3 linked regions of the Homo sapiens genome follow. The protein of the gene in region 1 interacts with the protein of each later gene in a biochemical or structural test. Each region holds a gene or a part of one and is shown on either strand. Other genes may lie near its edges. The genes, in order: RYR2, HOMER1 and FKBP1B.

What was found.
Region 2: the proteins of RYR2 (region 1) and HOMER1 form a complex in vitro, tested with the Homo sapiens proteins (one study listed by BioGRID).
Region 3: the proteins of RYR2 (region 1) and FKBP1B form a complex in vitro, tested with the Homo sapiens proteins (one study listed by BioGRID).

The regions. Positions count from the first base shown.
Region 1 is NC_000001.11:237,045,087-237,048,838, forward strand, and holds part of RYR2 (ryanodine receptor 2), read left to right. Parts: intron 1-3,752. UniProt on the Homo sapiens protein: Cytosolic calcium-activated calcium channel that mediates the release of Ca(2+) from the sarcoplasmic reticulum into the cytosol and thereby plays a key role in triggering cardiac muscle contraction. Aberrant channel activation can lead to cardiac arrhythmia.
Region 2 is NC_000005.10:79,374,464-79,378,215, reverse strand, and holds part of HOMER1 (homer protein homolog 1), read left to right. Parts: intron 1-2,018; coding exon 2,019-2,207; 3' UTR 2,208-3,752. UniProt on the Homo sapiens protein: Postsynaptic density scaffolding protein. Binds and cross-links cytoplasmic regions of GRM1, GRM5, ITPR1, DNM3, RYR1, RYR2, SHANK1 and SHANK3.
Region 3 is NC_000002.12:24,059,623-24,063,374, forward strand, and holds part of FKBP1B (peptidyl-prolyl cis-trans isomerase FKBP1B), read left to right. Parts: intron 1-1,191; coding exon 1,192-1,304; intron 1,305-3,396; coding exon of another isoform or gene 3,397-3,441; coding exon 3,442-3,570; 3' UTR 3,571-3,752. UniProt on the Homo sapiens protein: Has the potential to contribute to the immunosuppressive and toxic effects of FK506 and rapamycin. PPIases accelerate the folding of proteins. It catalyzes the cis-trans isomerization of proline imidic peptide bonds in oligopeptides.

The sequences.
Region 1 (3,752 bases):
TCATTAAGACACCGTAATTGTGAATTTGATGGGACATTTCATATGTCCTGATTAGAACATCTGGATTATTATCTTGAGCAGGTCATTGTCTATTGGATTTGTATTCAGCACCCCAGCACATTGAGGCATCTTTTTGACCACTGTCCACAGAAAGCTTTTTTGCTTTTCTTTTTTTAGAAGAGGTGTGAGATCACTGTTAAGGGAAGTAGAGGTGAAATCTTTAATGGGCTGTATCTGTGAGTTATGTATGCTGCTGTAAATTAATTCCTCATTTGCAAAGGGGTTTGTCACTGTTTAGCTTGTACCTGTCTCTCTGGCATCTCTGTTCCATTTGCTGCTGCTTGTCGAGTTGGCTCACATTCCTTCCAAATAGTTATGTAGATGAATGATCATTGATTCAGTGGCTCCCCCATCTGTTGGAAACCTGCCCACTTGGGTCTGTTTATCTTTGAGAGAGATTGAAAATATGTTTTTGTAAACTCTGGATATGCTGGGACACTTATTTTATGAGAGAAAAATCCTATCATAAAATAAGCTGTCAGCTTGTAATGGATTCATTCACTGTCATATCCAAACATATCCATGATTTGGAATGTGTGTTTTATTTTAAAGATTTTATTAACTTACCAATGTAGCATCAAACTGTCATTTGGCATTTAAAAACACGCATCTTTTTCGTTATGGTCCTCTTTTTTTTTTTTTTTCCAACAATCATACAGAATGTTATAGAAGATATTCCTCTGACTTTAGGAAAACCATGGTATAAAATGACCTTGGTCAAGGTTTTTTTTTTTTTTTTTTTTTTTTTTGAGTACTTTGTCTTTCTTTCATTTGTCTAAGCACAGTTGAGTTACCCTTGTGGTGTACTGTGTCATGTAGTTTTGTATTTACCCATAGATTGAGACTTAAAGCTTAGTCCTGGCTGTAAGAATGATCCTGATAGGAATGCTTACGGTCTTCCTCCTGTCTTCTTTTGCAGAATGAAGTATTTCATTATAGATTTCTTCTCAGTGTTCATACATCTTGTTCCACAATGACAAGAAGCATCTTTAAATATACTCATCTACAAATGGTGACAATTATGCAGTATAGATGCTGGTGTACAACACTGCATAGTAGTTTGGATGGGAATACTTAGCCCTAGTTTGTAGAGGTCCAGGAAGGTTAATGGTATGAAGTCAGTACTCAGCAGTGCAGAACGAGGACTAAAATTCAAATCTTAGGCTAATAGTGTTCTTTCCAGGAGAGAAAGGCTTCTTTATCTGCTGTTCAAGTATGTTTTAGGTTTATAGCAAAAGAATACCAAGTCAGTTTTCTCAGCTGTAGGAATGTCACAGAGTACAAAGGAAAAGATGGAATGAGCAGTGGAAATTCGCACTTTTTGCTCCCTTCATAATGAAGCTACGAGGAGCTTTAGATAGATATGCACTATGGTATTTTCCCAAGGAACTGATGGAAAGCCCACCCAGGCTTACATCATCAGACTTATTTTATTTTAACTTAGAAATTAGCATGTACACATTGGCAGGAAGGGCAAGATCTAAAACGCTTAGGGCACTAATTTATTTGACATTCAATTGTATTTGTACTTTGGCTTCAGATAAGTGTTTTTATCACGGCTGAATTACCCAAGAAAGGACTCCAGCAGCACTGGGTGACTGTGCTTCTTTAGATAGCTTTCGGGAGAGAGGGAGAGGTGATGAAGCACACATTTTTCCTGAAACTCTGACATTGTGGGAATTAGATTAATTCAGAAAACATTTGTTGAACACCGTCTGTATGCATAGCATGTTAAGGAAGTATTCCAAATAAGTAGGGAAGTGGTTTGCAGCTGTAATTGCAAAGAATAGATATAGAGGATGGCATGGAGCAATCAGAAGGAAAAATGCATAAACAAACTCCAAAACATTAGGGTAGGAAGAGGCCTTTAGAAAACATTACCCTGTCCACCCCATGCCTCTCTGATATTGCAGATAAGGAAACAAAAGCTCAGAAAGCCAAATGACTTGGCCCAGTGTCACACTCCAAGTTAGTGGCATTTAGTAATGGAGAGTATATGAAAATCTGTGAAGAATTTCCAGAAAGGAGGTTTACCAGCACATCATTCTTTATAGAGTAGATTTAAACCCACTTTTCCATTTTATCCTTAACTTGACCTTCATAGAGTTCTGTCTCCAAATCTGTCCTCTTGTCCTTCCAGCCAGTGAAAAGGAGGTTTCTTTTGTCTTTTCTAATGTTACAGTCCCTCACATGGCCTGAATCTTGGTCCTGGAAGCCAAGATTGGAATCCATCCTTTCTAGCCTTTTTTTTTTTTTTTTTGCCTCCCTATCCACTTACTCCTTCTGGTTTATCTTGAAGCCTGTTAATTTCTCCCATCTTAAAATGTCTGTCTTTGACCCGGATACCTTATTTGGTTGCTCCCCTCCTGCAGAAGTGGTCTTCTCCCACTGCTTGTACCCCTCTCCATGTAATTATCTAGCTTCTCTTCCTTCTTCAATTTACTTTCCAGGATGTTGCCAGTAACTCCCTCCTTGCCACGTCTAAATGTCCCTCTCTGTCCCTATTCCCTTAGATTCCTTCTCAAGCTCTACTACCCTGACTTTCCTTTTTGAAGCTACTCTTTTGACTTTGGGGACATGGTACCTTCTGGGTAATTTTTTACATTTCTGATCATGCTTTTTCCAGGTGCTTTTCATTCCTTTTACTCCAAGTGTGTGGTTATCCCAAAAGATTCTGTCCTATTTCCTGTTCTGGCTCTTCTGCCTTCATGAGCTTATCTATGTCACAAAATCTGGGATCTCTTGAATAACAGAGTCTGAAAAGACTTAACAATGACTTCATCCAGCTCTGAGAGCCAGAGAGATGAAAGGAATGTTCCCAAAGCGACTCTTTTTTGTAGGAGAAACCCACCGTAGATTCGACAGCCCTGGGCCTTCACTTCAAGCCTCTGTTTAGACTTCCCTCTTGCCTCTCGGACCCCAGAAACACCAGCTTGACATCATTGCCTGTTCGGTTCCCTAAGCGACTTTCCTTCCTAGTGTCTCTGCTGATCAGTGGCACTGCCGTTTGTGGCTGTGGCTCCAGTGTGATCCTAACCTTCAGAAGACCTGAGTCTGAGGCCGGAATCCACCAGCACCTAGCTTTACGGACTTAGAACAACAGTGCCTGGCTCATGGGAGTGGCTCAATGCATTTGTCTAGTTCTCTTTCTTCTCTTCTGCATCTAATTTGTCATCATAGCCCATCGTGTTTCTCTTTGCAATCCAACTCAGATTTCGATGTGTTTCATACTCCGTTAGCTTCTTGTTCTGATCCCAGTACTCATTTCAACCTTCGTCATCCTTCCTCCTGCAACAAATCGGCAACCCACCTAGAATCCGCCTGCCATTTTAGTCCTCCTGAAACCCTCGTGTCCATCTCCCAGCCTCAGCTCACATCCTTGCATATCCTGTCTAATTTCTCTACTTGGCCTTTTATGATCTGCCCCTTGATACCTTGCTTATGCTTTTCATCCTACACAGAGTTTTCTTGGATCACTCTAACCAATTCCGATTTTACCTTTCTCCGACCATTTATCACTAATAATTAATAAAATGTATGGAACTGATTGGGAAACTCAAGCAATGGTCAGAGAATGCTCTGACCCTGATGCTCTGTGGGTGAGTTGGGACCGTGTTGGGCATCGGTTTCCCATGATGCTTGGTGCACTGTTAACTACAAGGACAGACTTGAGAGAAATCTTGTGGCAAGGA
Region 2 (3,752 bases), on another chromosome or scaffold:
AGTCTTACTCTGTCACCCCAGGCGGCTGGAGTGCAGTAACGTAATTTCGGCTCACCACAACCTCTGCCTCCCGGTTCAAGTCATTCTCCTGCCTCAGTCTCCCGAGTAGCTGAGATTACAGGTGCCTGCCACCACGCCTGGCTAATTTTTATATTTTTAGTAGAGACGAAGGGATTCGCCATGTTGGCCAGGCTGGTCTCGACCTCCTGACCTCAGGTGATTCAGCCTCCCAGAGTTCTGGGATTAAAGGCGTGAGCCTTGCCCTAATTATTTTTCTTGAAAGTTTAATTTTTACATTGTGAAAAAAATTTAGTTCTTAATTTTTTTTTCATTCTTTATCCAACTTGAGAGAAGAATAAATTTTTGGAAAAAAGTGTCTGTAATTTCAACACCAGAACTATTTTTTATTTCCTATTTCTACATTAATTCCTAGTGTTTGTCCTCATGCATACGAATTTTTGCCAGTTTCAGTGAGCTACTTTATATTCTGTTCTTTTCATTTAACATTTACCAGATTGTCTTTCAGTGATCTAATTTTTTTAAAATTTCCACTGTCCTTTAGACTTGATAGAATTCCTTTAGAGATTAACATTTAAAGGATGTATTAACATTTTGAAACATCTCATTTTCTGAGGCTATCATGTTGTGTAACTAACATCAAGATATTTTCGTTGTCCCATATAGTTTATATATCTTAATGTAAATTGTGTCAGTCACTTAGTTTCTCTCAAATGTAAAAGTGAGCTTTCCAGAACGGATATATAACAACTTTCAATTCATTGCTTATCTGAATTGCTTATTTAAAGTGTAATAGTTGGCTTTCTCCCATTTTTCTCAATCTGATTTTTTTAACCAAAATGAAATCATTAGCTTGATTTATGTCATTTTATTTTTTTAGACTCACTTTATTATATTTGTCACATTTAGAGACAATTTTAAAAGCAGTAATAGGCCAGGCGGGGTGGCTCACGCCTGTAATCCTAGCACATTTGGAGGCCGAGGCGGGTGGATCACTGGAGGTCAAGAGTTCAAGACTGGCCTGGCCAACATGGTGAAACCCCGTCTCTACTAAAAATATAAAAATTAGCCAGGTGTGGTGGCGTGTGCCTGTAATCCCAGCTACTTGGGAGGCTGAGGCAGGAGAATGGCTTGAACCTGGGAGGCGGAGGTTGCAGTGAGCCAAGATTGCACCATTGCACTCCATCCTGGGGGACAGAGTGAGACTGTGTCTCAAAGAAAAGAAACAACAACAAAAAAACAAAAGCAGTAATAACTGCTAAATAATTTTTAAGTGTGCCAGAGTTTATTCTGTCAAAAACAAATCATTTAGTGTTTTTTTTGTTGTCATGAACATTTGATTTCCTTTTGTCATTTTTTTCCCTTGGTTTGCAATGTATTGGAACTGTTAACTTATAATTCTCTAATATGTACAGTTATTATGTATCTTCACTACAGTTTCTAGCAATTGAGTGATACTCTCTACATATACATTTATTTGATATTGAGGCAAAGCAAAGAATAACATATTCAGAGGATCCTAAAATCACATTTTAGAGAGTTACTTTCTTGTCTAAATCTTTCTCTAGAGTTGCCAGTAAACAGAAAAAGTTAATTTCTTTTTCTTTCTCTGCCTGCTTTCACCTGTGATTGCTAATAATTATGCATTAGGAGAAATAGGTGGACAGCAATAAAAATGAGATCTAAGTGATCCATAAATAGGTCTTCAAGCCTGTCTTGGTATTTGAAGTACCTAGAGTGTTGCCTGGCACAAAGTAATGAGTCAGTAGATTTTCGTTGAGTGGTTAGATAGATTGATAACCAAGCCAGTCATTAAAATCGTATTGCTCTCTGGGATGGCCAAGTCTAAAATCTCCTTAAATTGTGCTAAATTAAGATTCTGCAGCTCATCCTGACAGTCAAACTGCATTGATTACCGCAATATTGGTAATAACAGAGAGTTGTATTGTTTTCTAAGTGATGAATTGACATATATACATGTTACACTTTTGTTTCTGAAGGAAGTAGAAATTCGGAACAAAGACCTGGAGGGACAACTGTCTGACTTAGAGCAACGTCTGGAGAAAAGTCAGAATGAACAAGAAGCTTTTCGCAATAACCTGAAGACACTCTTAGAAATTCTGGATGGAAAGATATTTGAACTAACAGAATTACGAGATAACTTGGCCAAGCTACTAGAATGCAGCTAAGGAAAGTGAAATTTCAGTGCCAATTAATTAAAAGATACACTGTCTCTCTTCATAGGACTGTTTAGGCTCTGCATCAAGATTGCACAAAAAAAAAAAAAAAAAAATTGAATATCACTCCTCCAGGAGGAGGATCTTTTGAAATTGGAATTGTATATTTCACTGTAAATTTTAGAATCCAGCTTGTAGCTAGTTGGGGAAAAAAGATGAAAAACTTGAACTACAAATTACCTCCATGTATATTATTGGCCATAGTTAACTAGAAAGTTATAAATAGACACTTAATGCAATCTTTTTTCCTGATATTAGCCAATGGGAGAATTAACAATGTCTAGGTCACATCCCCTTTTTGTGTTCAACACAGTGAAGATTATCTGCTTTTTAAATTAATTTATTTACGATATCTAGAGCTGTGTTTTGTGCAAAAACTTAGTGATGAAAGCCTGTCTTTTGTTGTAATCTGAATAATTTCTCAGGATATTTTTGCACTGCTGAGAAGCAGTGCCATTACCAATTAATTCTTGCCAGGAGTGAGAGAGAGCTGTATCTTTAATTGAAATATACTATAACTGGGTGTATAGAGTTCTTCCCTTTTTTGTGCTGGAAGATATTTCACTCTGGTGACTACTCTGGTACACTCTGGTGTTCTCTAATCTTGTCTGTTGTATAGTTTACTTTTCCATATTGATTCCATGTATTTATGAGAAGATATTGTCTCCCATTTTATTACACATTTTAAAGCCAACTAACGAAGGCAGCTGAGTCCCTCAGAAATTTTTCTTTTTAAGTTTCTAATAAATTTGACACACAGTACTGAAATACAGCAGCCCGTCATTGACAGGCTGGTCTAGCAATGTTAAGTATATTTACAGAATATGCAGTTACATTTATTTATATATTTTGCAAGAAATCTTTTCTGAATGATCAATGCATTTCAATTTACGAATAATAATGGTTATTGGGGAACTGTTTATTATAGATAATTTTAAGGTGTATAGCTATTTTAAAGGGGGTCCATTTACATCAAACAGCTGATCAGAGGACTCTATCTAAATTGTGATCGTGGCAGATAGAGATGGAGTCATGTACTCTATCTGGCTCTACACATCAATCACATCTTGATTCAAACCTCACAAGGCAATATTCTGAATTGTTAACTAGGTATTTCAAAACAGGAATTAAATTCAATAGGCTCTTCTCAGTGAACAGGTTTTAATGTTGTTTTGATGTAATTTTAAAAGACTTTTAGCAAACATGCATTTCTTTATATGATATATTTCTTTTACGAAGCTATTTTAAAAGTAAGCCAAGTGCTGTCTAGTCTGCTTATAAAGTAGGAATTGCATCAGAGTACATATATTCTTGCTGTACAATGCCTGTGATGTTGAGGAGGGTTCTTTTTTAAAGTGTATGCTTGAGTAACTGACTCTATGGAGTCTATAAATGCACTGACTTCTTGTTTGTACCCCAAAATGATCGAATTGTTAAGTACAAAATTAAGCTAATTAACCAATTTGTAACCATTTTTTCACTCATAAACAGCTACTC
Region 3 (3,752 bases), on another chromosome or scaffold:
ATAGCTCACACCTGTAATCCCAGCACTTTGGGAGGCTGAGGTGGGCAGATCACCTGAGGTCAGGAGTTCGAGACCAGCCTGGCCAACATAGCAAAACCCCATCTCTACTAAAAATATAAAAAAATTAGCAGGCATAGTGGCAGGTACCTGTAGTCCCAGCTACTCAGGAAGCTGAGGCAGGAGAATCCCTTGAACCCGGGAGGCGGAGGTTGCAGTGAACCGAGATCACACCACTGCACTCCAGCCTGGGCAACAGAGGGAGACTCCGACTCAAAAAAAAAAAAAAAAAAAAAAAAGTTGAAAAGTGCAGAGGAATTTGAGAAAGGTATGACCTGAAAAGGACACAGAGGGAAGGGAAGGAAGGGGAGAACAGAGAGGGTTATAAGCAGGCCAGAGCCGGATTGTGAAGTGCCTGTATGCAAGGTAGGCATTTGGATTCTGCTCTGGGGAGCTATTGAAGTATTTTGAGCAGGGGAGTAATAGAATCAGATTTGTGTTTAAAGAAAAAAAAAAATCAGTCTGGATGCCAAGTGGACAATGAAATGGAGGCGAGTAAAAGAGGATCAAAAAGACCAGTTAGGAGGTTGTTCCTGTGTACAGGTGAGATAAGCTGGTGACTTGGTCGTGGTAATAGAAACAAAGAAAAGGCCAGGCACAGTGGCTCATGCTTGTAATCCCAGCACTTTGGGAGGCCAAGGTGGGTGGATCACCTGCAGTTCAGGAGTTCAAGACCAGCCTAGCCAATATGGCAAAACCCTGTTTCTACTAAAAATACAAAAATCAGCTGAGTGTGGTGGTGGGCGCCTGTAATGCCAGCTACCTGGGAGGCTGAGGCAGAAGAATCGATTGAACCCAGGAGATGGAGGTTGCAGTGAGCCGAGATTGTGCCACTGCACTCCAGCCTGGGTGACAAATTGAGATTCTGTCTCAAATAAATAAATAAATAAATAAAAATAGAAATGAAGAAAATAGGTGGATTCCAAAGATATGGAGGACTTAGTGATAGGCAGTATGTGGGGGTGAGGCAGAAGGAAGTGTCCAGATTTCCTGCTTGGGCAACAGGATGGATGGGGAGGATCGGAAGAGGAGCAGGTGTGTGCAGAAAAGGCATTCCATTTTAGACATGTGGAATCTGAATTGGGAGTTTACTCATGACCACAGCTCTATTGCACCCGATTCTTGCTTTGACAGGAATGCTCCAAAATGGGAAGAAGTTTGATTCATCCAGAGACAGAAACAAACCTTTCAAGTTCAGAATTGGCAAACAGGAAGTCATCAAAGGTTTTGAAGAGGGTGCAGCCCAGGTAGGATGAGGATTCGCATTAAAGGGGATCTGGGGAGTTGGGGATCTGGGATCAGCACTCTGCCCTCCACCTCCACCTTCACCCACTCACAGACCACTACTGCTTTGACTCTACAGCCAGGGCATGGCAACGCCATCTGGTGTCCCCTCCTGGCTTTGCGTCCCCACCCCTCTCCTTGCCAGCATACCTCTTTTGTGTCCCTGGGGGCTCTCATCCCAAGCACATCCCCCTAGGCTTGCTCAGAACTAGCTGAGAGAGCCAGGCACGGTGGCTCACACCTGTAATCCCAGCACTTTGGGAGGCCGAATGGGGTGGATCAGTTGAGGCCAGGAGTTCAAGACTAGCCTCACCAACATGGTGTAACCCCGTCCCTGCTGAAAATACAGGCGTGGTGGTGCATGCCTGTAATCCCAGCTACTTGGGAGGCTGCGACAGGAGAATTACTTGAACCGGGGAGGTGAAGGTTGCAGTGAGCAGAGATTGTGCCACTGTACTCCAGCCCAGGCGATGGAGTGAGACTGTCTCAAAAAAACAAAACAAAAAAATAAACTAGCTGAGGTCTACCAGTTGCCTGGGACTGAGGTAGTGGAAGAGTTGGGGTGGAGTAGGCCAAGAAAATTTTTCGTTTTTTCGCTTTTTTGAAAAGAATTTCAGAATTACAAAAATATTAAAGAAATAGTACAGAGTTCTTCTATATTCTATCCAGCTTCCCCTTCTTGCATAACCATAGTACAATTATCAAAACCAGGACATTCACACTGATACAAATTACTTACTTATTCAAATTTTTGATTATTCAAAATTCAAAAGTAGATTTAAATTTCACCAATTGTCCCACTAATGCTGAGTGGGTTCTCAACAACTGCTGTGATGAGCCCTGGTTCAAGCTGTTCTTTCTTGGTCTGTCTGTGAAGTCCTATGATGCTCCCTTACGATAGGTCTTGTTTTTGGTGTTTTTTTTTAGAAAGAGTATCACTCTGTCACCAAGGCTGGACTGCAGTGGCGCAATCTTGGCTCACTGCAAGCTCCGCGTCCTGGGTTCACGCCATTCTTCTGCCTCAGCCTCCCTAGTAGCTGGGACTACAGGCGCCCGCCACCACGGCCGGCTAATTTTTTTGTATTTTTAGTAGAGACGGGGTTTCACCGTTGTTAGCCAAGATGGTCTCGGTCTCCTGACCTCGTGATCTGCCCGCCTCAGCCTCCCAAAGTGGTGCGAGCCACCGTGCCCGGCCTGTTTTTTGTTTTTTATTTATTTATTTATTTTGAGACGTAGTCTCACTCTGTTGCCCAGGCTAGAGTGCAGTGGCACAATCTCAGCTCACTGCAACCTCCTCCTCCCAGGTTCAAGCAATTTTCCTGCCCCAGCCTCCCGAGTAGCTGAGATTACAGGTGTGCACCATCACCATCACGCCTGGCTAATTTTTGTATTTTTAGTACAGACGGGGTCTCACCATGTTTGCCAGGCTGCTCTCGAACTCCTGACCTCAGGTGATCCACCTGCCTCGGCCTCCCAAAGTGCTGAGATTACAGGTGTGAGCCACCACGCCCGGACTTTTTGTATTTTTTAGTAGAGACAGGGTTTTGCCATATTAGCCAGGCTGGTCTTGAACTTCTGGACTCAAGTGATCTGCCCACCTTGGCTTCCCAAAAGTGCTGGGATTACAGGTGTGAGCCACCACGGTTGGCCACAATAGGTCCCCCTTGCCACCTTGCTGGTGACTCTAGTCTCTAAACCACTTTAAATAACTGCCCCTGTCACCTACTTGAGTATTTACGTGTGCTATTCATACACCCTCTTTTCCTAAAGAGGCCTATTCTTTGGAAGAGGGTGAACTATGAACAAATGGAAGTGTTTCAGTCATACACAAATTGAATAACCAGTAATGTTTGTCAGATGCATGAATTTGAGACCACTCTGTGAGGGTTACTGCCCCACAGTCACATCTCTGCTGAGGCAGAATCTGCGTTTGTTAAAGCTGTTAGCACGATTTCAATGTATCCCATGTAAAATTCATCTGAGATCTTCAGAGTTAACATTGAGGATGGTTTGGGAAAATGCCATAGTCATCTAACTTTTTTCTTTTAAATCAAGCTGGGTCCTCTTTCTCCTCTCCCCATCTGCCCCCATCCCTGCTAGATGAGCTTGGGGCAGAGGGCGAAGCTGACCTGCACCCCTGATGTGGCATATGGAGCCACGGGCCACCCCGGTGTCATCCCTCCCAATGCCACCCTCATCTTTGACGTGGAGCTGCTCAACTTAGAGTGAAGGCAGGAAGGAACTCAAGGTGGCTGGAGATGGCTGCTGCTCACCCTCCTAGCCTGCTCTGCCACTGGGACGGCTCCTGCTTTTGGGGCTCTTGATCAGTGTGCTAACCTCACTGCCTCATGGCATCATCCATTCTCTCTGCCCAAGTTGCTCTGTATGTGTTCGTCAGTGTTCATGCGAAT